Homo sapiens: one gene and its partners. The protein of the gene in region 2 interacts with the protein of the main gene of each other region in a biochemical or structural test. Each region holds a gene or a part of one and is shown on either strand. Other genes may lie near its edges. The genes, in order: CLTC, CLINT1, AP2B1 and AP1G1.

Region 1 (7,027 bases), on a different chromosome or scaffold from region 2:
TGAAGGATCTCTTGTCATCAAAGCTTGGACCTACAGCAAATGAATGTGAATATATGAAGATTTCTCTTTTCCTAGACTGTTTAGACTGATAGCAGTTAATAAATGAGTGCCTATTTGAGCAAGATACTGTTGGAATTGAAGATTCTATAAAAATCCTAGGCTACATATATAAAATATTGCCTGTGATTCTTAATTTTTTGGTGATTTTCAATTTTCTGGCACATTAAGTATCTTTAGGCCACTTGACACATTCCATTGTATTCCTAGATTCTTTGGGTCTTCAATTAAAAATCTCCCTACCCTGTTCTTTCCCCTTTGATCCATAGATGCAGGCATGGAATGTGTTGTTGAGTCAAATGTTAGGGGTTCTTGCTATAGTTAGTTCGGATTGTGAATAGAAAGCAATGCTAAGTACTGGGATTTACTACATGCTTAGTTGTACTCTCTGGAAGAGGTAGACTTCCTGGAATTATGCGGCAGTCTCCTGGGAATAGCTTCTAAGTTTAAAATGTATCATATTCTTCAGAATTTTCTTGATGGTCAGTTTACCCAGCTTAAAGTGTGTGGTTAATTTTAGTGAAAGTGCTTTCACTCTGATTAGGAAATAAGACACAGAATGGTGTGTATGTAGAACACAATCATTTTCATTTGAGTATTTAGGAAAATTCACATTTCAGGAACCATGGTAGTTGCTCTTGAACAATTGTTTCTGACCATAATTGGAATTTGTACCTTGCTTTTAAAAGATTCCATTTATATCGAATCCTCAGCTTCTTTGCAAAATTGTTTTTTCCATACATATGTTTATATGTTATTCAAATTATATTTAACAAGGTGTTTTCCCTGTCATTGTTACCGTTGTGGCTTTTTCTCTTTGAGTTATTGTCCAGTAGAACTTTCTTCAATGATGGAACTGTCTACCAGCTACATAGGGATATTGAGCACTTGAAATGTGGCTGATGTGACTGAAAAACTAAATTTTTGCTTTAATTTCTTTTTAATTTAAATGTAAATAGCCACATGTGACAATTGACTCCTACATTGGACTGCACAATTATAGGCCATGCTGATGTGTTTTGTAAGTTTGAAGATTTATCTCACCACTCATGTTTATGTATTTAGAATATTTCGTTAGCTAAAATTAAAACACTCATTGTTCAAAAGTTTTAACTGAATACTGTCTGTCTTGGAAAGTGGTGGTGATGAACAATGACTAGCAGCAGACTTCTTGAGACCTTATTATGTGCTGTAAATTTGGCTAGGTACTTTCAGATCTTCACTCAATCCCCCCAGACACCTTTCTAAAAAGTGAGACTCATAAAGTAGTGGGAATGCTGTCCGAATGGGATGTGTACCTGAGTCTTCTGACACAAAATATTTCAAAGAAATTGGATAATTGACCTTAAAAAAAGAAGTTATACAGTATCCTAGAGTGCTTTTTGTCTGTTGGACTTAGGCCCAGAGAGGTGAGTTCTCTCTACTTGTTTATAGATTAACAATGTGGTATAGTAGACAGAACAGGGAGGGCTTTAGGGGTTGTTGAAACAAATGCTGTCCAATAGAAAAATAATATGAGCCACATACTTTTTTTTTTTTTTTTTTTTTTTTTGAGACAGAGTCTCACTCTGTCCTCTGTCACCTAGACTAGTGTGCAGTGGTGCGATCTCGGCTCACAGCAACCTCCACCTGCCAGGTTCAAGTGATTCTCCTGCCTCAGCCTCCCAAGTAGCTGGGATTTTAGGTGTCTGCCACCATGCCTGGCTAATTTTTCCATTTTTAGTAGAGATGGGGTTTTACCATGTTGGCCAGGCTGGTCTTCAACTCCTGACTTCAAATGATCTGCCCACCTCGACCTCCCAAAGTGCTGGGATTATAGGCATGAGCTGCTGCTCCTGGCCTCATATAAATAATTTTTTAAGTTTTCTAGCAGCCATATTAAAAGTGAAAAAACATAAAATTAATTAATTTTGGGTTTTTTTGGTAGAGACAGAGTCTTGCTATATTGCTCAGGCTGGTCTCAAATTATTGGGCTCAAGTGATCTGCTCGCCTTGGCCTCCCAAAGTGCTGGGATTACAGGCGTGAGTCACCATGCCATGCCCAGATAAAATTAAATTTAATATATTTTATTTAACTTGGGATATGCAAAATATTATTTCAATATGTAATCAGTATAAAATTTACTAATGAGATACCTTACATTCTTTTTCATACTAAATTTTCTAAATCTAGTGTGTGTGGTTTTTTTTTCTTTTTTTTTGAGACAAAGTCTCACTCTGTCGCCAGGCTGGAGTGCAATGGTGGATCTCGGCTCATTGCAACCTCCGCCTTCCAGGTTCAAGTGATTCTTCTGCCTCTGCCTCCCGAGTCGCTGGGACTACAGGCGCGTGCTACCACGCCCAGCTATTTTTTTTTTATTTTTATTTTTTGGTATTTTTAGTAAAGATGGGGTTTCACCATGTTGGTCAGGATGGTCTCAATCTCTTGACCTCGTGAAATGCCTGCCTCGGCCTCCCGAAGTGTTAGGATTACAGGTGTGAGCCACCGTGCCCGGCTATGTATATTTTGTACTTAGAGCATATATCAATTCAGACCCTATTTTCTTTGGAAATCCTGGTCCGTATTTAGAGTTCATAAAATTTACAGTTAGAAAGGCAGATTTGGGGCTGGGGGTAGTGGCTCATGCCTGTAAACTCAGCACTTTGTGAGCCAAGGTAGGAGCATTGTTTGAGCCCAGGAATTCAAGACCAGCCTGGGTAACAGAGTTAAGACCTCGTCTCTATATTAAACAAACAAAAATGAAGAAAAAGGAAAGCAGATATGCAATACTTCAGTGATCCCAAACATACTTAAGTTTTCCAGTAATTGAATCACTTACTGGTTATTATTTAATTTTAATTACTTTAAAATTACGGTAACCACATTTCAAGTGCTCATTATGGTATGTAGGTTGTGACTTGTGGTTACCATATTGGACAACACAGGTTAAGTCTAACCTCTTGCTTTTTTTTCTCTGGGAAATGGGCATACTTATCTCACAAAGTTATTATGAGGATCTGAGATCATGTATGTGAAAGTACTTTACGTAGCATTTTAGGAGCATTAATTATTGGCTAAATAATTTTTGTCCAGTACATTTTATTCAGGTATCTCAACCAATGACACAATATTCATTTACAGATCCAGTGTTTTATGGTGTATAAGTATTTGGGGTTAACACATTTACCTAAGATTTGAGTACTTACTGCAGATGAGGAACTGTGTTAGACTCTAGGGACAAGGTGGTAAACAAGATGGACTACACCTTGCATTCATGCTTCCATTGATGAGTTGGCAAAGGCTGTACACTTGTTATTCCAACCATTGATGTTGTCTACTTGATTGTGGATCTTTTATGTGTTCGAACATTTGATATTGTGCACAGTTTAATACAAATATTGATATGATACAAAGTTGATTACACTCTGAAACTGCCCCCCAAAAAGAAACTTTTAAATAAATCTTTTATTATGTTCCACGAGTCTCATTGTGTGCCACTGGTACATTTTAAATTAGGGTTCCTTGAACAGACATATTTGAAAAAAAAACTTAATGAATCATATCGGATAAAATACCCATATGGAATGCCGGTCAGGCGATTGTTAGAGTTATTGTATGTGTTGTATGTGTCCTTTTTTAGGGTGGTAGTGTTGAAGTGAATCTTCTCACTTAGATGAGCAGTAGGTTCATGGCTGATATTTTAGTCCTGTATATTAGAATGAGGCTGTTTCTCTAAGTTCATGCACTATATGCCATGCCAAAACTACTTCATGAAATAAACCTGTCTTCTGAGCCACAGCAAAGTTTACAGCTCTGGGTGTCTTGTCTTTGCTTCTTGGTTAAGTGCCTATGGCTAATGCTCTTAACTCAAAAGATGGCTGAAAGCTTGGACCTAAATGTGTTATGCAAAACCCATCTGTCAGACTTTTGTGAGTCTCTTCTTTTGTATTATCTCCTTAAATTAAGACATAATTTAAGATATTTTTGTCCTACTTTTTTTGGGGGGTGGGGACAGGGTCTCACTCTGTTGCCCAGGCTGGAGTGCAGTGGCATGATCAAGGCTCACTGCAGCCTTGACCTCCCTGGGCTTAGGTAATCCTCCCACCTCTGCTCCCTAAATAGCTGGGACTACAGGCGTGCGCCACCAAACCCGGCTAATTTTTGTATTTTTTTTGTAGAGTCGGGGTTTTGCCATGTTTCCCAGGATGGTCTCAAAATCCCGGGCTCAAGCAGTCCACCTGCCACAGCCTCCCAAAGTGCTGAAATTACAAGTGTGAGACACCAAGCCTTGTCCTATTTTTGAGGCAGTAACTATTCAAATCTTAATTGTCCTGTAATCTAATCCATAAAATCAAAATACATGGGCCATTATAGTTGTTTGAGCACCTATTACGTGCCAAGAACTGTATTAAATATTTAATGTTTATTATCTCATTTAATTAGCAAGAGAACCCTTGTGCTTAGGTCAGATTAGCCTTATTGTAGAGATTGGGCAACTGAAGTTCATAGTAGGTAACTTTTAGAGTCACACAGCTAGTGAGCAGTCAGACTTTTAATATTTATTCTTTCATTTGGCTCATTGCCTCATTTGGTAAATGGTCTGTATCATTTGAATTGCAAAATGTACCACAATTGTTTATATCTATGCTGTGATGTTCTTTGATTCTAGTAGTACTGTCGTTTGTTTATCGTGAAATATTTTTTATATTATGAGAAAAGTAGGAGACAGCAAACTAACATCTGACTTTATGCCTTGAATGATTATTTAGCTGTATCTTTTTTAAGGACTTTATCCTGTTTCCTATTGGAAAATTGTGCAGGATGATTGGGATCCGGTTAACTTGTAACCAGGATTGTCTGCATCCCTCTCATAAGACTGAACTTGTCACACTTTTCTATAGACTTTTTCTTACTGAAAAGAATGAGTGTGTTCCAGTCTGAAGCCACTTGTGAAAGGAGGAAACTTCTGCTTTCTATTTTACTGTAAATTCATGTTTTTGTGTTTATGCCAAGAAATAGAAGCTTGAACTCAACGAAGGCAGTTGTGCATGAAAGGGATAGGAAATGAAGGTGACAATGGAATATATTTGCTCATTTTGAGTAGCATCATGGTAGAAAGGAAAATGGTTACAGACTTGTAGGGTTGTGCTTTGGAGGCAGACTGCCAGTACTGTTAATACTTCTTGTTCCTAATCCTTAGGTAAATAAGGATTTTCTTCAAGTTCTGAAGTAAGACGGTTTTAAAGATTATTGCTGAAAGAATAGGAACCAGATCCATTAAAGCCATATTTTGTCACATTAAAAAACTCTGCAGTGTGCTATTCTGGAAAATGTCTCAGATGTTTAATCTGGGCTTATCTATTGATTATGTCAGGTTTTCAACTTGTCTCAACTTCCTCATTTATTAAAACAATATTTCCTGGCAATTTTAAAGTTAGACTACAGTATGTTTTTGTATTTGTAGTATAATATTTAGCCCCTTAACCCCTTACAGGCACTCGAATATTAGTTCTTCCCCTCCACCCTGGAAGAGTTTCCCTTTGTCCACTTGAGTTGAATATATGTGCCGTACTAAAGGAGAAAAACTACCATCTACCCAGTTATTGAAGCCAAGATCTTGAAGTTACACCAGACTCTCTAATTTCTCATTTTCTGCATCCGTCGATTTCTGGAGTTCCTCAGTGATGCACACTGGGGGTCTCAGGGATGACAGTTTTTCATGACCCTAGGTTGAAACTGGGAGTCATAGAAGACGAAAAAACGAGAATTGGATTGGGAGTTGACTCTGTTGCCCAGGCTGGAGTACGGTGGTGCAATCTTGGTTCACTGCAACTTCCGCCTCCCAGGTTCAAGCAATTCTCCTGCCTCAGCCTCCTGAGTAGCTGGGACTACAGGGGCCCGCCACCAGGCCTGGCGAATTTTTTTTGTATTTTTAGTAGAGATGGGGTTTCACCATGTTGGCCAGGCTGGTCTCAAACTCCTGACCTCAAATAATCTACCCTCCTCAGCTTCCCAAAGTGCTGGGATTACAGGCGTGAGCCATCGTGCCTGGCCAACTTGCATTTATTTCTGATTAGCTGCTCATCTGAGAAAGGTGGCTTAAAAAAAACCACCAAAGTGGACAGACTGAAGCTAAAGACTGTCAGTATATATGCTCTGCTTGGCAAACAGCTGACTTTGGATAGATCTCATTATTTAAAGATGAATAATAAGGGGGAAAAACGTGTAGAGAGAACATGGTTTACAAAAACCCATCTCTTTCTCCAGTCTCTGCAATATTCTATATTTGGTCATATTGAACTATGAAAATCTAAGGCAGGTTTCTTTATTTTACCACAGATATCCTCAGGAAAGAGTCTCCTTATTAAAAGCCTTACTGAATCTCCATAGTATTGTGTCCTCTCACAGTTGCTTCTGTTCTGAGCACCAGAATGCTGTTTGGCAAAGGCTGCTGTAGGCTTGAAATCAACTGGATTAGTGAGAGACAAATTTTACACATCTAAAATTCTCCTGTGTATGGCCTCACAGTTGGAACTGTTGGATGTTATAAGCAGATGATTTAAATATCCCGTGAAAAGCAGTCCATTCGGGCATGTTTCTAGAGATCATAATTTTTTTTTTTTTTTTTTTTGAGATGGAGTCTTGCTCTGTCGCCCAGGCTGGAGTACAGTGGCATGATCTTGGCTCACTGCAACTTCTGCCTCCCGGGTTCAAGCGGTTCTTCTGCCTAAGCCTCCCAAGTAGCTGGGATTACAGGTGCCCGCCACCATGCCTGGCTGATTTTTGTAATTTTAGTACAGATGGGATTTCACCATGTTGTCCAGGTTGGTGTTGAACTCCTGACCTTGTGATCCGCCTGCTTTGGCCTCCCAAAGTGCTGGGATTACAGGCATGAGCCACCACACCCAGCCTAGAGATCATAATTTACATAGAAAGATAAGAGAAAAACAACTCTCCTGATAACGCAAATAGATTTGATGTTACAAAACT
Region 2 (7,027 bases):
TAAATTGTTAGTAGAACTTGGAGTTTCTAAGTGAATTATTTTCTCTTTCAAGGGTGCTTACATTTTAATATGGTAATAGAAGAATGTAATTTTAAAGACTTCACCTTATTATTCTCTTTTGATATTTAGCATAATGAGACATGGTATTGTAGTGGTTGGTCACTTTTTAGGCTAGACAAAATGTATTTCCAAGTTGTAAATGAACATGGAATGCAAAGGGATGGTGTTAATTAACTTGGAAGGTACATACTTACTATTTGCTTTCAGATGACGGTTTTTATGTAGCTCTTTCTTCACATTTTGCTTTTTCAACTTCCATTTATGCGTATTTATCTGTTCCTTTCAATATAAAAATTGATCAGAGGTTAATTGATAAGACTGTAGTGATTAAGAGTATGGATTTTATGCATTCAACCTTAAACTTGCAAAGTATGATAGGGTTTTGCTTGTTTCTGGCTTGGTTGTGTTTTTTAATATTACATGAGTTTTCCTCCTCTCTTTGATTGTAAATAAATGGTCCCAGTTGAAGCAGGCAATGTGCTAAGGTTATAGCCCTTGTATTGTCAGTGGAAGTATGGCCAAATAAGTGAGAAATTCTTCATTTTTTTTTAGACGGAGTCTCGCTCTGTCACCCAGGCTGGAGTGCAGTGGCACAATCTCAGCTCACTGCAACCTCCGCCTCCCGGGTTCAAGCGATTCTTGTGCCTGAGCCTCCCAAGTAGCTGGGACTACAGGTGTGTGTCACAACACCCAGCTAATTTTTTTGTATTTTTAGTAGAGATGAGGTTTCACCGTGCTAGACAGGATGGTCTCAATCTCCTGACCTTGTGATCCACCTGTCTCGGCCTCCCAAAGTCCTGGGATTACAGGCGTGAGCCACCATGCCTGGCCATTTTTTTTTATGGTAAATTCAATGTGTCACCTACAGAGCTGCCAAGAGATGGATTTTACGTTATATTTGGGAGGTTTGTTTTTTCTTTGCCACCTTGTTAACTCTCGTGTAATATTTATGAGAAAGAATACTGTCCAGATGGAGATGGTACCTGCAGATGTTAATCTGGGGGACTCAGATCAGCTCTAATTTGTTTCAGTTCATAGATTGTTACATTTGTTCTGTGCATTCCATGAAGTTTCTTACCCTTAGAGTTATTTCTGTCTTAGTAACAGCAACAAGTGGGAATGGAGACTTTGGTGACTGGAGTGCCTTCAACCAAGCCCCATCAGGCCCTGTTGCTTCCAGTGGCGAGTTCTTTGGCAGTGCCTCACAGCCAGCGGTAGAACTTGTTAGTGGCTCACAATCAGCTCTAGGCCCACCTCCTGCTGCCTCAAATTCTTCAGACCTGTTTGATCTTATGGGCTCGTCCCAGGCAACCATGACATCTTCCCAGAGTATGAATTTCTCTATGATGAGCACTAACACTGTGGGACTTGGTTTGCCTATGTCAAGATCACAGGTAAGTTGTCTGGTTCCCTTGGAATTTGTTATTTATAATCTTTGAGATGCTCTAACTCATTGAATGATAGATTAGTATAAAACAGAAAAATAAGCAAGTCCTTTTTATGTGTATGAATATGTGTCTGTGTGTGTATATATACGCATTTGCACATTTCATTTACCTCATACTCTCCCCTAGCATAGTCATTTGCATTCTGGAAGGCAAGACCTTCTCCCCCATCTTGTAGTCACTGTAAAGCCAAGCATGGTGCCTTTGCACAGAGGAGGAACATGGCAAAAATTTATTGTTACAACAAATTGGTACTTGATAGTTTTTTTAAATTGTCTTTAAGAAAAAGAAATAGGCCAGGCGCAGTGGCTCACCCCTGTAATCCCAGCACTTTCGGAGGCTGAGGTGGGTGGATCACTTGGTCAGGAGATCAAGACCATCCTGGCTAACACGGTGAAACCCAGTCTCTACTAAAAATACAAAAAATTAGCCAGGCATGGTGGCAGGCACCTGTAGTCCCTGCTACTTGGGAGGCTGAGTCAGGAGAATGGCGTGAACCCAGGAGGTGGAGCTTGCAGTGAGCTGAGATCGCGCCACTGCACTCCAGCCTGGGCGACAGAGTGATACTCCGTCTCAAAAAAAAGGAAAAGAAAAAGAAATAGAGATATTGTTTCACTTACGGCAAGTATCCACTTAGTAAAATTTCTGGTCATGTCCCTAAAGAAATATCACTCATTGGTTGTAAATAATTATTGCTAATATGGAAAATCATTCTCTCGAATGGTGAATGTTCTTCCCAATTCTGGACCTGCTCTACATTATATAAATGTTTTATAGGCTCATCTTTCAACTTTCATTTTCATAAAGAAAAACAACCAAAATGGGAGCTTCTTAATTCACTATTTTATAGTTAAATCCGAATTACCTAGTACTAGCTTAGAATTCAGACAAGTGCAGGCTTGGAAAATATGTGTCTGAATGGTACCAGGAACTTGCTATTTTTGACTCAAACTATTGAGAATATGTGTTTATGATGCTAATTACTCATTTTAATGTGTAGATTCTCGTCTTTGGGGTATTAGGATGAAGGAAAAGAAGAAAGAAGCAGAAAGGTGACTGCTCTATGTAACAGAAATAAGACCTAATGTATGAGTTAAGCATAAAGTCAGTCTACTTTATTTGCAGTCTTAATTGTAACTGTCATAATTCTTTGCATTGGTACATTTTTAATTATTCTTCCTCTTCCTGTTCCTTTTTTCTGTCCTTTTCAGTTATCCTCAATAACCACTAGGAACCTCTGCTTCTTTCTCCTGAATTTCTTCTTTCTCCTACATTGTTCCATATATTAATCAGTTCAGTTAGTGTTGCTCACTTTAGATAGTAAAAGTATACACAGAACAGCAAAATGTCAGGATATGTGAAATATAAATTGCTTTTTGACAGTTTTGCCTTATATCCTTGTATAATGTGAGACATCATATCCTGAATTCTCTGTTTTGTTTTGTTGTTTTGAAACAGAGTCTCGCTCTGTCGCCCAGGCTGGAGTGCAGTGGCACGATCTCTGCTCACTGCAGCCTCCACCTCCTTGGTTCAAAGTGATTCTCCTGCCTTAGCCTCCCAAGTAGCTGGGACTACAGGCATGTGCCACCATGCCTGGCTGATTTTGTATTTTTAGTAGAGATGGGGTTTCATCCTGTTGGCCAGTCTGGTCTTGAACTTCTGACCTCAGGTGATCTGCCCACCTCAGCCTCCCAAAGTGCTGGGATTACAGGCATAAGTCACTGCGCCTGGCCTCTGAATTCTGTTTTGAAAGAATAAATGTCCACTTGTGTATCTCCTTAAAGCTGTACTAACCTAAAATCGGTAGTTCCCCTGGGCATTTGCCAGGGATGGTGGCTTCTAGACTTTGAGTGATGGGAGAATAATTGTTAGTGTAGGTAAGTTGTTGGTTTTATCCACCTCAAACCTGATTGGGACTTCAGAGGAACCTCTTTGGGAAGCTAATGATTCAGGGTATTGAAGACATTAGCATAGAACATTAGTGGTTCTTTTTGTTTCAGAAGTTCATTGTTGTGATTAAATTGCCATCTGATAATTTTTATAGAACAGATGCTTAATTTTTAGAGCATTTTTCTATTTTCCAGCCTTTGCAAAATGTTAGCACAGTGCTGCAGAAGCCTAATCCTCTCTATAATCAGAATACAGATATGGTCCAGAAATCAGTCAGCAAAACCTTGCCCTCTACTTGGTCTGACCCCAGTGTAAACATCAGCCTAGACAACTTACTACCTGGTATGCAGCCTTCCAAACCCCAGCAGCCATCACTGAATACAATGATTCAGCAACAGAGTAAGTTACCTTAAGACGTCCCACTTCTTTGTGTACTTGCAGTCTTTTGCCTTAATGCCAGGACTACTTCAAACTATAAATAAAAATATATCACATAAATTGTAACAGTTAACCAAATGCCTGTTCACTTAAGATATTTTCACATAATATTTACTGGGTATTCCTCCTGGCACATTGAATTACTTTATATTCTATTCTTGTCCTGATAACATTTATTGTATTGTGGAGAGTTTTAAGGACCTGATCACTAAAATAAAAATTTGCTATACAGATTTTTTTTTAAATATAGGCAAATACGATGGACAAACAAAAATCATCTGATTCTGCCGTTGAGGGGTAATTGCCATTAATACATATTTCTTTCTATGTTTTCTTTTTTTTTTTTTTTTTTTTTCTGAGATGGAGTCTTGCTCTGTCGCCCAGGCTAGAGTGCAGTGGTGCAATCTCAGCTCACTGCAGCCTCCACCTCCCAGTTTTAAGCAATTCCTTGCCTCAGCCTTCCGAGTAGCTGGGACTACAGGCGTGCACCGCCACACCTGGCTAATTTTTATATTTTTAGTAGAGACAGGGTTTCACCCTGTTGTCCAGTCTGGTCTTGAACTCCTGACCTCAAGTGATCCACTCGCCTTGGCCTCCCAAAGTGCTGGGATTACAGGCGTGGGGCACCGCGCCTGGCCACTTTCCATCTTTTCTAAGCATATTTTTAATACTTGGGATCATTCTCTCTATACTGTTTCTTATTCAACATTAAGTTATCATTTTCCCTGTGTTGAATAATATTCTTAGGAAAATGATTGTTAGCTCTTGATAGTTATATTAGTGTATGATTTCCCTTGCTAATTATTTCAATTGTTTCCAGCTATTTGTTATTATAAATCAAGATTTTGTATAAATCTTCATACTTCTGTTTTTTTCTTAATAGAATGTTCTAAAAATAAGTCAAAGGATATAAACTTTTTAAAGATTTTTGTATAAATCTTCATACTTCTGATTTTTTTAATAGAATGTTCTAAAAATAGAATAAGTCAAAGGATGTAAACCTTTGAAAGATTTTTTATACACACTAGCTCTTGACAACTTGTTAAGTAGGATTTAACAATAGGTTTTGTAGGAATGTTTTTAAGTTGGCTGTTTTTCCCCAGTCTACTCTTACTGTTTCTACATCTCTGGGGAACCAGAGCCAATAGTCACTGAATATATGTCTCAAGAGGAACCAGTGCAGAGTAATTGATTTCTAATAAAATCACTGTAAAGGAATTTTATTGGGGCTAAAGAAGTATAGATAGATGGTCAAGAAGTTATTAGTTCTCTGTTCTATGAACCTAAAAATTTATTGTGGTAAAGTTCTTCTGTCTGTTTTCGTCTGGTAGATATGCAGCAGCCTATGAATGTGATGACTCAAAGTTTTGGAGCTGTGAACCTCAGTTCTCCATCGAACATGCTTCCTGTCCGGCCCCAAACTAATGCTTTGATAGGGGGACCCATGCCTATGAGCATGCCCAATGTGATGACTGGCACCATGGGAATGGCCCCTCTTGGAAATACTCCGATGATGAACCAGAGCATGATGGGCATGAACATGAACATAGGGATGTCCGCTGCTGGGATGGGCTTGACAGGCACAATGGGAATGGGCATGCCCAACATAGCCATGACTTCTGGAACTGTGCAACCCAAGCAAGATGCCTTTGCAAATTTCGCCAATTTTAGCAAATAAGAGATTGTAAAAGAAGCAGATTGAATGAAGAATTTTTAGCTGTGCAGATAGGTGATGTTGGGATGGAAAATGCTAATCAACTACCCTTTCTTTTATCAAGTAATTAAAATAAATCTACATAAAGAACCAAAAAGGCTGTTTTATAAAAGTGAAATATCCAGTATTTCAGAGGGCCAGGCAAGAGCACTTCAGATGAGGCAGTCAAAATCATTTTTTTCCAGTGAGGATAGACCACAAGTGGGTGGTGAGACCATTGAAAGCCTTTATCAACTGAAGAGTCCATTTAACAGCATAATTTGTGGGAAGACTGGAATAGGGCTGAATAAATGTGTTTGAATCTCTAATTTTATACTTTCTTTTCCTGAGGAACTTGATTTTTCTGTCCCTGGATCGCCTTGTCATAATTGGGTCTGTTCCTTTTACTACCACTCTTGAGTCCATATATGAAATCATTAAAGTTGGATGATCAGTTTTTTATAAAAATATATATTTTTGTCCAAGAAAAAAAAAAGCATACATATGTGATTATGGCTAAATCAAAGGTAACTGGAATGTATATACTTTTGCTAATGTTCCAGCAACACTGCTATTATACTATCCAAATTTTTATTGTAACAAAACCTCTTTAAGCAATTGGTGATTGCCATGGGACTTTTCCCATGTCTTCTGCTGTAATTATCCTGTGCAGAACTAGGAAGAAATTTTTTTCAGGACTGCTCTATGGTTTCCTTTAAAAGAAAAAAACTTCTGTTTGTTTTTAGCAGTCATTATTTACAATTTGCAGTGATTAACTTGGCAAGGCTTCCTTCCGTGTTTATCCCTGTAGCCATCATTTAAGTCAGGAACAGTCAGAAAAATATTTATTTTATTTTTTTTTTGGGTGTCTGCAAAGGTAAAAATCCATTAAAACCTTAAGTTAAATATAAATGTTACAACTCAATGTTTGCTTTTAGATTTTATACAGTATTTGTTTTGTTTTGGTTTTGAGTGTATATAATGCAGCATTAGCAATATGGTTCCAATAGAGGAGTTAAATATATATTGTTAAAGGAGACCTGTAGCAGTCAAAGATTTTATTGATTTAATGACAAAGGAAATTAATGAAAATGTTTTTGTTTTTCTGCTGTAATTCTGCATTAAGCTCACATGAAAATCATGATTCTAGAGTTTGGAATGCAAAATTAATTGTTTTACCCTCAAGCTGGGAATATTTTTCAAAATAAATACTATAATATAGATATCAAATTATTACCTCCCCATGTTATGTTGAAAATTTTTTTATTAAATTGATAAAACTTTATTTCCATTATATTCATAATGTTCTGTTATACATAACATTAAAATGTTCATTAAAATCAATGTTGAACTGCTTTTTCTTTCGTTCTGTTAGACATTTGAGACCATTTGGGGAAAAAATAATTATAGTTTGGGCAAAGTAATTTTTATAAATAATTTAAAATTATTTAATGACTTCTCTATTCTTTCCTATCAGACTCTACTGTTAGGAATTAAAAAT
Region 3 (7,027 bases), on a different chromosome or scaffold from region 2:
CCCTAATATTGTTTAAAAGAAACGGAAAAAAAACACTAAGTCCATGAAAAAGAGGTTGACTACTCCCATCTCAACTTTCCATCTACATCCTCCAGCTCATCTACCATACTGCCTCAAAAGACTTTCCTCCACCTTCAAGACTGTTCCTGTCGTTCCTTTCAACCAGATCTCATTTACCAGCATAGAAACAGTGGGGACAGTCTCCGCTTCCGGAGGTCGCTACTGCTGCCTCAGTGGCCCCGGAGCGGGGGCGCCCAGGGGTCCTTCGCCCCCGGCCACGGCCCCCACAACGGGGCTTCGCCGCCACCTGTGTCCGAGCTGGACCGTGCAGGCGCCAGGCTCCTCTCCGAAAGGCGCACGAGACAGCTTTCTTCTCCTGGTTCCACAATGGCCTCCTGGCATAGGGCATCGGGGTTATCTCCTTCATGCAGAGTGACATGGATCACGAAGCAGCATATGGCTTCTTCCTGCTGGGCGGCCTGTGTGCGGTGTGGGGCAGCGCCTGCGGGGCCTGGCAGCGCTGCGGGGGCCCATGCAGCTGACGCTAGGGGGCGCAGCTGCGGGCGCTGTACTCGCCACCAGCCCGCTCTGGGTGTGCGCCGCCGTGGGCTTCTACACCGGGCAGCTGGAGCTGGACGTGAAGCTGGTGCTCGAGGGCGACGGGGCGGCCTCCGCGGAAGGCCCTGATGAGGCAGGCTGGCCGCCACCCGAGTGAGCGACATGGCCGCCGGGCCTGGCAGGCGCGGGATGACGGCGCCCGAGGACTGGGACATTAAAACCTGACCTCCCCTCCTCCAAAAAAAAAAAAAAGAAAGAAATAGTGGGGACAAACACTACGTGATTTGCCTGAAACCATTATGTGGAAAGGATGAAATTAGTAAGACACAGAAGTAGAGCACTTTTTCGTTTCAATATCCATGGCCAATAAGGCAAAAAAATTGTTCCAAAATTTCTATTTAATCAACAGCTACAAAAGTAGCATAGCAAGAAAAGCTGGGCCCTTTAAAGAGTCATTCTTCATAGGACTCTTCACCATGTCCCATCCTGCCAAATCCAGCTCTTAGAGTTCCTCTCATTCACTTCCGGGAACAGTGAAGGACAAACGGCGGGGTTTCAGAAAGTCTGAATTGTGAACAGCAGCAGGTGTTATAGAATCAAAGCAGGATGTAACAGAAATTATTCCAATTCCAAAAGCATAAATTTAAAGAATATGTTTCAGTGGCAGTTCTGGTGGGTGTTGCAGGAAGTACAGGGAACACAATCTATCAATTTTTTTTAAGTATGATGTTTATTAGCAGTGATTCAATCTGCAGTCTCAAACTTTTACAAATGCCTGAATTAAAAAAAGGTCACCAGGACACTTTTCAAGAGTAGGTTTGAAGAATTAGGAGAGTTTTAAAATTATAACTATTTAATTGTAATTGTATCCCTTTATATAATTATAGACATTTTGTTCGTCAAAGCACACAAAATGCTAACAGAAGAAGAAATAAACATATTTCCAAAAGAAAATCAGAAAAAGCTGAGACTGAATGACAAGTGGCTAATGGCTTTTGTGAGGTGTAAGTAATAAAAATAAGGAGGAAAAAGTTGGGCAGGACCAAAGAGGGGTACTAAAAGAGGCAAAGTCATATATTCTACAACTTTATTAAATTCCTATATTTTCTCCCTCCTCCTCCCCCCAATCAAATCTACCAAGCACTGTTAGCAGCTAGCAGTAGTTCTCAATCATGGCTGCACATTAAAATAATCTGGGGAGCTTTCTTTTTAATTTTTTTCTTTTGAGACAGGGTCTCTCTCTGTTGCCTAGGCTGGGGTACAGCGGCACAATCACGACTCACTGCAGCCTCAACCTCCTGCACTCAAGTGATCCTCCCACCTCAGCCTCCCAAATAGCTGGGACTACAGGTGTGCACCACCGTACAGGGCTAATTTTTAAATTTTTTTTCATAGAGATAGGGTCTTACCATGTTGCCCAGGCTGGTCTCAAACTCCTGCACTCAAACAATCCTCCTGTCTCAGCCTCCCAATGTGCTGGGATTACAGGCATAAGCCACCATGCCTGGCCACCTGGAGAACCTTTAAAATCCTCACACCCAGACCATATCCAGGACAACTGAAATCAGGCTGAGGTTGAGACCCAGGCATCAGTATTATTTCAAAGTTCCCTGGCTGAGCAATTCTGATGTGTTGCCAAGACTGAAAGCTACAGACAACAAACTGACATAATTAAGCAACTCACTGCAACAAGAGAAAAAGAAGAATGGTAGTTGGCGCCATGTCTGGAATACTTTGGTAAATGTAAGGACTCCTGAACACAAAAGCACAGAATTCTGATCCTAAGCAACAAATAAAGCAAGCTAAGCTACAGGCACAATAAGCTGAGATGGGCTAAAATGTTTGTCTTTGATGGGAAGACCCTCCACATTTCTAGAAATGATCTATTTTATTTAGGAACAATTTTACAAAAGATGAAGGGTTGGACTTTCCCCAGAAGAATCCTTTGTTCCTAGACCCAAACTCATAGGTAAAAACAAGCATTATATTACTGATAACAAAGATGATGAGAGTAATAAGTGCAAAGTCCCTCAAGTAATTCCGTCTATGACCTAAAAACCATAGATGGCTCTAGAGATTCCGTTTTAAATATACATCTAGACGAAGAACATGGTAGATGTATATGGACGGATATGAAAATAACTCATTTCTATTCATTGTTTTGCAAGATTGCTTTTTCATTAAAGATAAAAAAATTTTAAATCATATGTATTAATATATGCACTCATATGCAGAGAAAAAGACTTGAGGATATACACCAAGTTCCCTTGGGAATAGGAACAGGAAGGGAGAACTTTCATTTTTACCTTTTACATACATATCTGTATTGCTTTAATTGTATTCTTTGTTATAAAATGTTTATTTCCAAGTAAAAATTATTTAATAAAAGGGAAAAAGTATGCTGCTTCTTTTGTCCTCCTCACACTTAACCAATCTCCAATGGATCATCTCAAACAGCAAAGAGGAGTCTCTTTCACTAAACAGAACCTTCAAGTCATAATAATGTGCATCACAGCCCTCTCTTTTAAAACCTACTCTTTAATAACTTGCTTGAATACATTCATCTATAGAAGTAGTAGATGTCCAGTGAGATTGTCAGCTACATGTATGTCTGAAGGAAGAGGTCAGCAGCATTCTGCCTGGGGCAATCTTACACTACAACTTTTGAAAATTTCAAAAGATTTGATTGTATTCTCATACTTACCTTTTTTATTGGTTGTGAAATACTTGGAGTCAGTCATGACTTTGGATCTTTAATGTGCACCTATAGCAAGAGAAAAGAATTCCTTCATTCAGGTTATAGATATCCAACAAGGCATCCAATTAATTTTAAGAACATCCAATTAATTTTAGGAACACTTATATTTAAGAATTTCTAAAAATGAGTATCATCTTCCTTTATCACCACCGTTGATGGTTCAAGAAAAACTAAGAATGTAACTCCTCAAGCTAATGGGGCAAAAATCTAAAGGCCAAATGCAACTGGGTAAAAGTATGAACCTATTATGGCTTTGTGATTTTATCCACAGTAACTCCTCAAAGCTTTCAAGAGCTAAAGCTGGACCTTTTTATAAATATATCTGCAATTACTTTCCATTCAGGAAAATCTGGTAACTTCCTTGCCTCAAGCTGGAATCACTCCAAAACATATATTCTGAAGCAGTGTAAGGTCAAAAGAAAAAACAATTTTGCCGATCTATGACATGAAACTTTCAATAAAAAGAATCTCTTTCAGAAAAAAAAAATTCAAAATTAGTAGGACAATATTCTTTCACAACAAACATCTAGAGAGGCAACCATGACTTATGCATGGAATTTTTTTAATTTTTAGTTTTGTGGGTATTTAGTAGGTGCGTATAGGTACATGAGATATTTTGATAACAGGCAGACAATGCATAATAATTACATTAGTGTAAATGGGATATCCATCACCTCAAGCATTTATCCTTTCTTTGTATTATAAACAATTCAATTACATTCTTTTAGTTATTTTTAAATGTACAGTAAATTATTGTTGACCGCAGTCACCCTTTTGTGCTATCAAATACTAGATCTTATTCATTGTATCTAACTATATTTTTGGATTTAAAAAAAAATGTGGCTTTCTTACTTCCAACAATCCAGATTTAGCCCAAGAGTATTCCCAAATAATGCCAGTTTATAGTTAAAAACAAGGCAAAAGACTGAGACATCCGTTCAGACACGAGAATCAAACTGGTGTTGAAACAAAAGAACGTGGATCTCAACCTCAACCTTAACTCTTCCATCCCAATTTCCAGAAGAAGTAATCCAGATGACAAATGGCTCTACTAACAAAAACGGCACAGTCTGGTCACATTTTTACTAAATAATAAGACTACTTTTTCTGATTTGAGAAACTATAAGACTTTGTCCAATGTACCAGACTTCTTTAAATATATTAAAATTTTGGGGCCAGGCACAGTAGCTCACGCCTGTAATCCCAGCACTTTGTGAGGCTGCCGGGTGGATCACTTGAGGTCAGGAGTTCAAGACCAGCCTCGCCAACATGGTGAAATCCTGTCTCTGCTAAAAATACAAAATTTAGCTGGGCATGGTGGCACGTGCCTTTAATCCCAGCTACTTGGGAGGCTGAGGCAGGAGAATCGCTTGGACCTGGGAGGCGGAAGCTGCAGTAAGCCGAGATCACGCCACTGCACTCCAGCCTGGGCAACAGAGCAAAAGTCCATCTCAAATAAATAAATAAATAAATAGGAATTTGGGCCAGGCGCGGTGGCTCAGGCATGGTGGCATGTACCTGTAGTCTCAGCTACTTGGGAGGCTGAGGTGTGTGGATCGCTTGAGCTTAGGAGATCAAGGCTACAGGGAGCTATGATCTCACCACTGCACTCCAGCCTCAGCGACAGAGACCTTGTCTCAAGGGGAAAAAAATATATAAATATACATATATTTTTTAATAATATTCCTTCTGTACTCAAAATGAGTATCTTTTTCCTTATCACCATCACTAATAATACTTATCACCAACTTCAGGACAAGACATGCTGGCACCTGCTCATTATTATCAGGTCAATATGACATAATGTATTTGGCAAACAATAGTAAATATGGATCTAGGAGAAAAGACCTAAGCACCAAACAAATCAATGTAATTAAAGAAAAGAAAAAAGAGCCAGATAAACATAAAATAATGAAAAACTTCTGGTTCAAATCTGATCTCTAAAACGTGCTACTTGTACAGTTTAATGGAAATTAGACTCATTTGCTATCTTTCCAACCAGCTAATTACTATTTATAGTCTTGATCCTAATAGCTCTTTAGATTGTACCAGAAATTCACAGAATGATCTTGTTAAAAGAAGTGAGCTAGGACTCACAAATATCATTACAGAATATAGAAATTTCTCCTTTAATACTTGTTATAATTAAAAATTATACTGAAGCTTGCCTTATGCAATGTTTTTACAATGTGTTTCTAGCAAAAATTCAAAGAATGTTATAATCATTTAGTCCATTCATAATGTAAACTAAATGTGAAGTGGGCAAATGAAGAAAGGAATTCTTCACATAAAAGACCTGGAATAAATCTGAAGTTATTTATGAATGTATATATACAAACAGAAAAACCAGTAAACAGAAACGATTACTTGAGCCTCAAAGAAGGACTATAGCTCAAATCCATTACAATCTGTCTAGGATATTTACTATGCTATGCTATGTCCTTTAAAACTTGTTTAAGATTTTAAAACAAAACCTCCTTAGAATTTGTCACCCAATTTCTCTGAAAAGCCTCTTATACATACACATATTAAATTTTTTTTGGCCAGGCACGGTGGCTCACGCCTGTAATCCCAACACTTTGGGAGGACGAGGCGTGCGGATGGCTTGAGCTCAGGAGATCGAGACCAGTCTGGGGAACGTGGCGAAACTCCGTCTCTAATAAAAATACAAAAATTAGCCGGGCATGGTAGCACATGCCTGTAGTCCCAGCTGGGACTCACTGCAACATCTGCCTTCTGGGCTCAAGCAATCCTCCTGCCTCAGCCTCCCGAGTAGCTGGGACTACATGTTGGGATCACCGTGCCCAGCCCATTAAATTCTTTTTTTTTTTTTTTTTTTTTTGAGACAAAATCTCACTGTGGCCCAGGCTCCAGTGCAGTGGTTCAATTTGGGCTCACTCCAACCTTTGCCTCCCAGGTTCAAGTGATTCTCCTGCCTTAGCCTTCAGAGTAGCTGGGACTACAGGCACCCACTACCACGCCCAGCTAATTTTTGTATTTTAGTAGAGACAGGGTTTTTCCTTGTTAGCCAGGCTGGTCTGGAACTCCTGACATCAAGTTATCCATCCACCTCGGCCTCCCAAAGTGCTGGGATTACAGGCATGAGTAAATTCTTAACAGGCATTTTCACTACATTCTATTAAACAATAAATTAACCTAAGTCTTAAGTCATACCTTTATCAGTAGCTCACATATTTCATTATCTCCCCTAACAATTTCAATGTCAAGGAATATATTACTATCCTGTTCACTGTGAGCATTAAGTGTTCTTGTCTTAACTAGAAAATAATGCACCCACCCACAAAATTTCAGGGAAGAGAGGAGGGTCAAGTATCTTTAGAAGCCTATAAGATAGATTCTAAATTAAGAGTCCCTGCTGCTCTAAAGAGAAGGGATATCACTCTAGTAACCATATTGTAAACAATAGTAACAAAATATTCCCTAACCATATTGGCAGAGAAACATGGTGCCAAGCTGGTTCTTGCCTTAAGCCAAAAGAAACTCCAAGAAAAATGAAAATAGTGTAAATAAAAACAAATCAGAAGACATGATTGTTGCACAACACTGTCAGTGTACTAAATGCCACTGAACTGTATGCCTTAACCTGGTTAATTTTATGGTACGTGAATTTCACCTCAAAAAAAAATCACATATATATATGATTCAGTGTATCTCTCATATAATGAGTTCTCACCTCATATAATGAGAGAT
Region 4 (6,991 bases), on a different chromosome or scaffold from region 2:
GAGTTCGAGACCAGCCTGGCCAACATGGAGAAACCCTGTCTCTACTAAAATATACAAAATTAGCTGGGCGTGGTGGCGCATGCCTGTAATCCCAGCTACTCAGGAGGCTGAGGCAGGAGAATTGCTTGAACCCGGGAGGTGGAGGCTGCAGTGAGCCGAGATTGTGCCATTGCACTCCAGCCTGGGCAACAAGAGTGAAACTCCGTGAAAGAAAGAAAGAAAGAAAGAGGGGCGGGGAGGGGGGAGGAAGGGAGGAAGGAAGGAAGGAAGAAAGATAGGGTCTCACTATGTTACCTGGGCTGTTCTCAAACTCCTTGGATCAAGTGATCCTCCCACCTTGGCCCCCCGAAGTGCTAGGATTACAGGTGTGAGCCACTGTGCCCAGCTGGGGCAACTGCTTTTAATTTTAGTTGCATGGAAGAAGGGTTTGGTAATTATAAATAAAGATAAATGGCCTGGGCGCGGTGGCTCACGTCTGTAATCCCAGCACTTTGGGAGGCTGAGGCGGGCAGATCATAAGGTCAAGAGATCAAGACCAGCCTGGCCAACATGATGAAACCCCGTCTGTACTAAAAATACAAAAATTAGCCGGATGTAGTGGCACGTGCCTGTAGTCCCAGCTACTCGGGAGGCTGAGGCAGGAGAACCACTTGAACTCGGGAGGTGGAGGTTGCAGCAAGCTGAGATCATGCCACTGCACTCCGGCCTGGCGACAGAGACTCTGTCTCAAAAACAAAAACAAAATAAAGAGAAATGTAAGTTAAAAAGTACTGAGAAAGGGTTTAGTTTTTAATGTTTAAAACTCTTTAACGCTCTGCACTCGATATGGTAGGAAAAAAGATCTTTCCGGGGCCGGGAGCGGTGGCTCACGCCTGTAATCCCAGTACTTTGGGAGGCCAAGGCGGGCGGATCACGAGGTCAGGAGATCAAGACCATCCTGGCTAACATGTGAAACCTCGTCTCTACTAAAAACACAAAAAACTAGCCAGGTGTGGTGGCGGGCGCCTGTAGTCCCAGCTGCTCTGGAGGCTGAGGCAGCAGAATGGCGTGAACTCAGGAGGCGGAGTTTGCAGTGAGTTGAGATCGTGCCACTGCACTCCAGCCTGGGGACAGAGTGAGACTCCGTCTCAAAAAAAAAAAAAGCTCTCTCCTCCTTAGGTAGCTGGCTTAATTTTTCTTTTGTGGTTCACAATGATACACATTTAAATTTGACCTCTAAGCATTTTTTTGTGGTGTTCCAAACGGAATACTTTAGCTAACTCTGCTTTGCAACCTGCAAACTTCTTACTTATGTGGAAACCCCAAACTAAGTTTGGCCTGTGTTCCCTGCATAGCTATACCTCAGAGGAAATTGTGTTTTGGCTTCATTCCACTATTTACTAGCCTTGTAGTCCATGGTTGCACTGTACAGTAGCAGCATGGCAGAGGATCTGAATTCTGTAAACATTCTGTTCTCTAAACCACTTGTTGGGGGTTGACTCCATCCACCCTGAGAGTGTAGGTATGTGTGTAGGTAGGTAGGTAGGTAGGTGGGTGGGTAGGTAGGGGTGGTGGAAGATTGTGGTACCCTATGCTAATTTATAAAATGGCACTCTGGCCTGGCATGGTGGCTCATGCCTGTAATCCCAGCACTTTGGGAGGCCGAGGTGGGTGAATCACCTGAGGTCAGGAGTTCGAGACCAGCTTGGGTAACATGGTGAAACCCCGTTTCTACTAAAAATACAAAAAATTAGCTGGGCGTGGTGGCATGCGCCTGTAGTCCCAGCTACTTGGGAGACTGAGGCAGGACAATCACTTGAACCTGGGAGGCGGAGGCTGCAGTGAGCCAAGATCACGCCATTGCACTCCAGCTCGGGCAACAAGAGTGAAACTCTGTCTCAAAAAAAAAGGCACTCTATAGCTCTGTAGCAGAACCCCAGTGGAGGAGGGGAGAGGATGTGTCTTTTAGCCAAGTTAGTTTCTTGGAGCCTCTTTTTCCTTATTTGTAAAACTAAGTTACTTATGCTTGCCTAGCCTGACTCAGGAGGTTGTCCAGAGGGTCAGATTAGATTATACACATGAAAGTGCCTTATGAACAATGTGATATCAATATTTAATAATACAAATGATAATTATTATCGCACCCATGGCCTCCTTTCTTTCCAGCCACTTGGCATGCCCCAGTAGTTCAGGGACAAAATTGTACAGATGGGCCTACTTGGTTCAATTTTTTTTTGTTTTTGTGAGACAGGGTCTCACTCTGTCGCCCAGACTCGGCTATCTGCAACCTCTGCCTCCCAGGTTCAAGCGATTCTCCTGTCTCAGCCTTCCGAGTAGCTGGGATTACAGGTGCCCACCACCATGCCCGGCTAATTTTGTATTTTTAGTGGAGATGGAGTTTCACCATGTTGGCCAGTCTGGTCTCGAACTCCTGACCTCAGGTGATCCGCCCACCCCGGCCTCCTAAAGTACTGGGATTACATGCGTCAGCCACTGTGCCCGGCCTACTTAGAGCAATTTTTGTTAAGTGTTTTGAAATCCCTGCATGAAAATGACTAAGGAAAAAAGTGCAACCTTCTCTCTATGACACCCAAATCCTAAACTCAAGATTTGTGGTTAGTTCTGGCCAGGCCGGTGGCTCACACCTGTCATCTCCACACTTTGGGAGGCCGACGCAGGCAGATCACCTGAGGTCAGGAGTTCAAGACCAGCCTGGCCAACATGGCGAAACCCTCTCTCTACTAAAAATGCAAATATTAGACGGCCGTGGTGGCGGGAGCCTGTAATCCCAGCTACTTGCGAGGCTGAAGCACGAGAAATTGCTTGACCCCGGGAGGCAAGGTTGTAGTGAGCCGGGATCCCGCCACTGCACTCCAGCCTGGGCAACAGAGCGAGACTTTGTCTCAAAAAAAAAAAAAAAATTTTTTTTGTGTGGTTGGTTCTGTTCTCTTTGGCACCCAGCCTGCTGCTGTGTTGTATTGTACTTTGTTGCCAATCTAGCAGAAGGATTTTAGTCTAGGTAGGTCACCTTTCCTTTAAACAGGCCAAGATATCAGGCCCTCTTTACATTCACATGGAAAAGACTCACGTCATATGTTAGTAATTATTTATCAGGTTAGGAACTGTCTGGTTAGACTTTCTTTGGCCCTGGTTATTAATTCATGGAGTCATAGACCGAAAGCCCATTCTGTAAGGGTTTCAGCTAACATGAGTCCAAGTCTTCTTTCTACATATGAGGAAATTGAATCCCTGGAGAGTTTAAGTGACTTGAGCAGTGCAAGCACCGCGGTACCGGGCGTGGAATCCATTCTTTTCAGTCATCCTCTTAACTCTTCATAAAATATGTTGCAAAGACACCATAAAACCATAGAATACCACCTGGAGCATGCTCCTTAAGTTATAAAGAAAGCAAAAATCTTAAAGGAGACAGCAAAGAGTTCGGGATTCCCGTGGACGAAGACCTTTTCAGCCCTGCTGTCTTCTCCGCCCCCACCTGTCTCGCTTGCTCTCACTTCCTGGGCTACCTGACTTAGCTCCGCCCCCTCCAGGTGGCTCCACCGCTTCCTGGTAGCCCAGCTCCACCCCCCCTACCCCCCCACCCCCCTACCCCCCACCCCCCTACCCCCTCACCAAGCGGAACCAATGTCCGTCCGCTACGGGGTAGGCCGGATCTTTCTCGCTCAGACTCATCGCAGCGGTGACTCGGCAGCAGCGTCTCGCGTCATCAGTGACAGCCCCGATCCTTGCTACGTTTGCGTCGCTCTGCCAGGAGCAGTCGCCTCCTCCTTGGCAAATAGTCCTCGGCAGGGTCCGAGTTCTTGGATAATTCGAGAGAAAAGGCACGATAAGTTGCAGTACGAGGACACGGAAACGACCAGGAGAGGAGGACAGGGAGCGAAGTTTCCTCAATAGTGTGTGAAGTTAGTTAAAAACTCCCTCCTTCCTCAGGATCCCTCCGCCTGCGGTAGCGGTGGTGAGGCCGAGGGAGCCGCCATTTTGGATGTTCGGTTCCTGCTGCCACTGCTGCCGCCGCCCCCGGAGCTGCTGGTTTCATTCGAGGTTTCGGGCCGGTGAGTGTCACTCCCGGCGCTGAGAGCATATTGCTGCTTTTGCCCCGCCGCTGCCGCGGGCGCTCGACCGGAAGCTTCCTTTCAGTTTCAGGGGTCCAGTCCCAGGCTGTGGGTGTTGAGAAGAGAAGACAGAGAAGCTGGGCCAGGAGAGGCCGGGAGCCCCAGGGGCTGCTCCGACTTCTGGAGGGCCGACCCCGAGGCCTCGGACCGGGAGGTTCCGCGCGCCGCGGCGTTCCGTGTTGTGGCGTTGCCCCGCCGGTACGGGCCTCCTTGAACCCTTGACTTTCTCAGGCTGCGATCTTTGAGGGCTCATTCAGGGAGCCTGGGGTTTAGCGGGGCGGGCCCCACCCCCGCGTGTCTTCTCTGAGCCACGTATCAGCGTTCTTGTGTCTTGTACCCGTGTCAGGTCTGTCAGATAACTCCCAGCATATCCAAATGCCCAGTTAATCGCTGCCTGCCCCTGCAGTGCCGTCCTCTCGGAACCGGACATCGGCCTCGCCTCTCTCTAACCTTCCGACCAACTTCTTTCCCAATTTTTCGTGTGTGTGTGTATATGTTGTTGTTTTGTTTTTTTCAACCTACCTGCGAGTATACTGTTTACCCTTTTCTCAGCTCCTGGCCCTGCGGACGTCAGCGTCTAATAATTCTCCCGGTCTTCCTGATTGCCTGAAAGAGTCGGGACGGTTCGGTTGATTGTGTTTCCCGGTTAGGACTCGGTGTAGGAGATCCATCGAACCACTCGCTCAGGGTAATGTTTATGAAGCAGATTATGTTTATGAAGCAGATTAAATGGCTTTTGGGAGGCAAGAGCTGTCAAATGTTTTCTCATATGTGGATTCCCTCCCTGTGCTGAATACTTAGCTTTTTGGTGCTTACTGACACTTGTGTGGTATTTTTTTTTCTCCCCTATTATATATCCCTGAGCACGGAAATCTGTCCATGGAGAAAAATATTAATCTGAGGTAGGTAGAAAGGAGAGTTGGGCTGCTTTACAGTGATTAGTTAACAGAAGGGAGGAGTTAGTGCTTTCTTAGTGACCTTAACTTTGAAGTGTTTGTACAGTAATGATCTTTGCTGACTGATTCTAAAAAATACTTGTAATGATTTCATGTATTGGGTTTTTCTGGGGATAGCTGAATTTTAAATATTCACTTCCACCGTTCCCTAGAATACTTGTCAAATACCTAACTTGTCACACACCCTAACTTTCACGTTTGAAAAATATGAACCCTCTAAGTACTCGTAATCTCGTCACTTTTATTCTAAAGGCATGTTTGCAGTCTAGCATGCTTGAATAAAAAGTATGTCTTTATTTTTATTTATTTATTTTTTGAGACGAAGTCTCCCTCTGTCTCCAGGCTGGAGTGCAGTGGCACGGTCTCGGCTCACTGCAACCTACGCCTCCCGGGTTCAAGCAGTTCTCCTGCCTCAGCCTCCCAAGTAGCTGGGACTACAGGCACACGCCGCCACGCCCGGCTAATTTTTTGTTGTTGTATTTTAGTAGAGATGGGGTTTCATCATGTTGCCCAGGCAGATCTCGAACTCCTGAGCTCAGGTAATCCGCCCGCCTCGGCCTCCCAAAGTGCTAGGATTACAGGCGTGAGCCACCGTGCCTGGCAAAAAGTATTTCACAGTTATTCACTGATACATTTCCTACGTTTCAAGTTAGGCGAGTGTGATTGAATCACCCTTATTTCATCTCAGCCTGGGTTTTCACATCTGCAAAAGAGAAATTAACTTATTTGAGATCACAGTCTAGTGGTTGAAGTTTAAATTTATAACTTGAATTGAGTCAAGCTTTTTAATATTGCTAAGCCACTTATAGATGCATTATTATTATCAGGTTATTGAAATGAGATTGTAGATAAATTCCTCTATAGGTCATATGATGTCTCAGAAGAAAACAATATTTTCAGTTTAAATACTCAGTGATCTTGTTATTTAAGCAGATTTTTCAAAAATATATTAGTTACTATTAGATACGTGAGTTCTGTATTACCCTGAAGCAATGGAATTTTCTCTTTTGGTTTAAAGGAACTGTCAAACACTGAACACCTATGTAATGCTCACTCATTTAGTAAGTATGCCCTCGCAGTTACTACTGAAATGTTCCATTTCTGACTTAGACTTTTCAAGTAAGGTGTTAGAAGAGCTATCACATAGATGTTAGTTAACTCAGTGTTTTTCATGCTTTAATATATTGGTATTTAAATGTCATTCAGGCGGGCGCTCAGTGGCTCATGCTTGTAATCCCAACACTTTGGGAGGTGGAAGGTGGATCCCTTGAGCCCAGGAGTTGGAGGCCAGCCTGGGCAACCTAATGAGACTCCGTCTCTACCAAAATATTTAAAAATATTAAACTTTTAAAAATTCATTCTTAGATAGTTTGCATTCACTGTAGAAAGGGTCCTTTTGCCTTAACAAATTCCTAGCAAAGTGTTGTTTAGTGCACCATTGATCAGTGCATATTTGAATGTCTGCTTTGCGTTTAGGAAACCTCCGTTTTCTTTTGGGGGCAGTTGCTTGTTCTTTGGTCTGACCTCTGTCATTGATAGCAGTTCTAGATTTGAGGGCAGATTTTAGAGTGAAACTTTAAAGTACAGAATTTGCCAGGAATGCCTTGGTGATATTTCACCCCAGTGTTTATTTAAAAAAGGAGTTTTAAAAATCAGTGGTATGCAAACAAAACCAACTTCTTTATGATTTATAAAAACTCTTTTTTTTTTTTTTTATTATTTTTATTGTTTGAGACAGGGTCTCACTCTGTTGCCCAGGCTGGAGTGCAGTGGTCTCAGCTCACTGCAGCCTGGACCTCCTGGACTCAAGCGATCCTCCTGCCTCAGCCCTCCACGTAGCTGGGACTACAGGCGTGTGCTACCACGCAGGGCTAATTTTTGTATTTTTTGTATAGATAGTGTTTTGTCATGTTGCCCAGGCTGGGC

What was found.
Region 1: the proteins of CLINT1 (region 2) and CLTC form a complex in vitro, tested with the Homo sapiens proteins (2 studies listed by BioGRID).
Region 3: the proteins of CLINT1 (region 2) and AP2B1 form a complex in vitro, tested with the Homo sapiens proteins (2 studies listed by BioGRID and IntAct, with this or other methods).
Region 4: the proteins of CLINT1 (region 2) and AP1G1 form a complex in vitro, tested with the Homo sapiens proteins (2 studies listed by BioGRID).

What each region holds. Positions count from the first base shown.
Region 1 is NC_000017.11:59,622,871-59,629,897, forward strand, and holds part of CLTC (clathrin heavy chain 1), read left to right. Parts: intron 1-7,027. UniProt on the Homo sapiens protein: Clathrin is the major protein of the polyhedral coat of coated pits and vesicles. Two different adapter protein complexes link the clathrin lattice either to the plasma membrane or to the trans-Golgi network.
Region 2 is NC_000005.10:157,786,130-157,793,156, reverse strand, and holds part of CLINT1 (clathrin interactor 1), read left to right. Parts: intron 1-1,161; coding exon 1,162-1,454; intron 1,455-2,505; coding exon of another isoform or gene 2,506-2,532; exon of another isoform or gene 2,533-2,557; intron 2,558-2,716; exon of another isoform or gene 2,717-3,589; coding exon of another isoform or gene 3,590-3,643; coding exon 3,644-3,794; intron 3,795-5,138; coding exon of another isoform or gene 5,139-5,164; coding exon 5,165-5,511; 3' UTR 5,512-7,027. UniProt on the Homo sapiens protein: Binds to membranes enriched in phosphatidylinositol 4,5-bisphosphate (PtdIns(4,5)P2). May have a role in transport via clathrin-coated vesicles from the trans-Golgi network to endosomes. Stimulates clathrin assembly.
Region 3 is NC_000017.11:35,590,303-35,597,329, reverse strand, and holds part of AP2B1 (AP-2 complex subunit beta), read right to left. Parts: intron 3,323-7,027; 5' UTR 3,300-3,322; coding exon 3,263-3,299; intron 798-3,262; exon of another isoform or gene 200-797; intron 1-199. UniProt on the Homo sapiens protein: Component of the adaptor protein complex 2 (AP-2). Adaptor protein complexes function in protein transport via transport vesicles in different membrane traffic pathways.
Region 4 is NC_000016.10:71,805,821-71,812,811, reverse strand, and holds the start of AP1G1 (AP-1 complex subunit gamma-1), read left to right. Parts: upstream 1-3,977; 5' UTR 3,978-4,049; intron 4,050-6,991. UniProt on the Homo sapiens protein: Subunit of clathrin-associated adaptor protein complex 1 that plays a role in protein sorting in the late-Golgi/trans-Golgi network (TGN) and/or endosomes.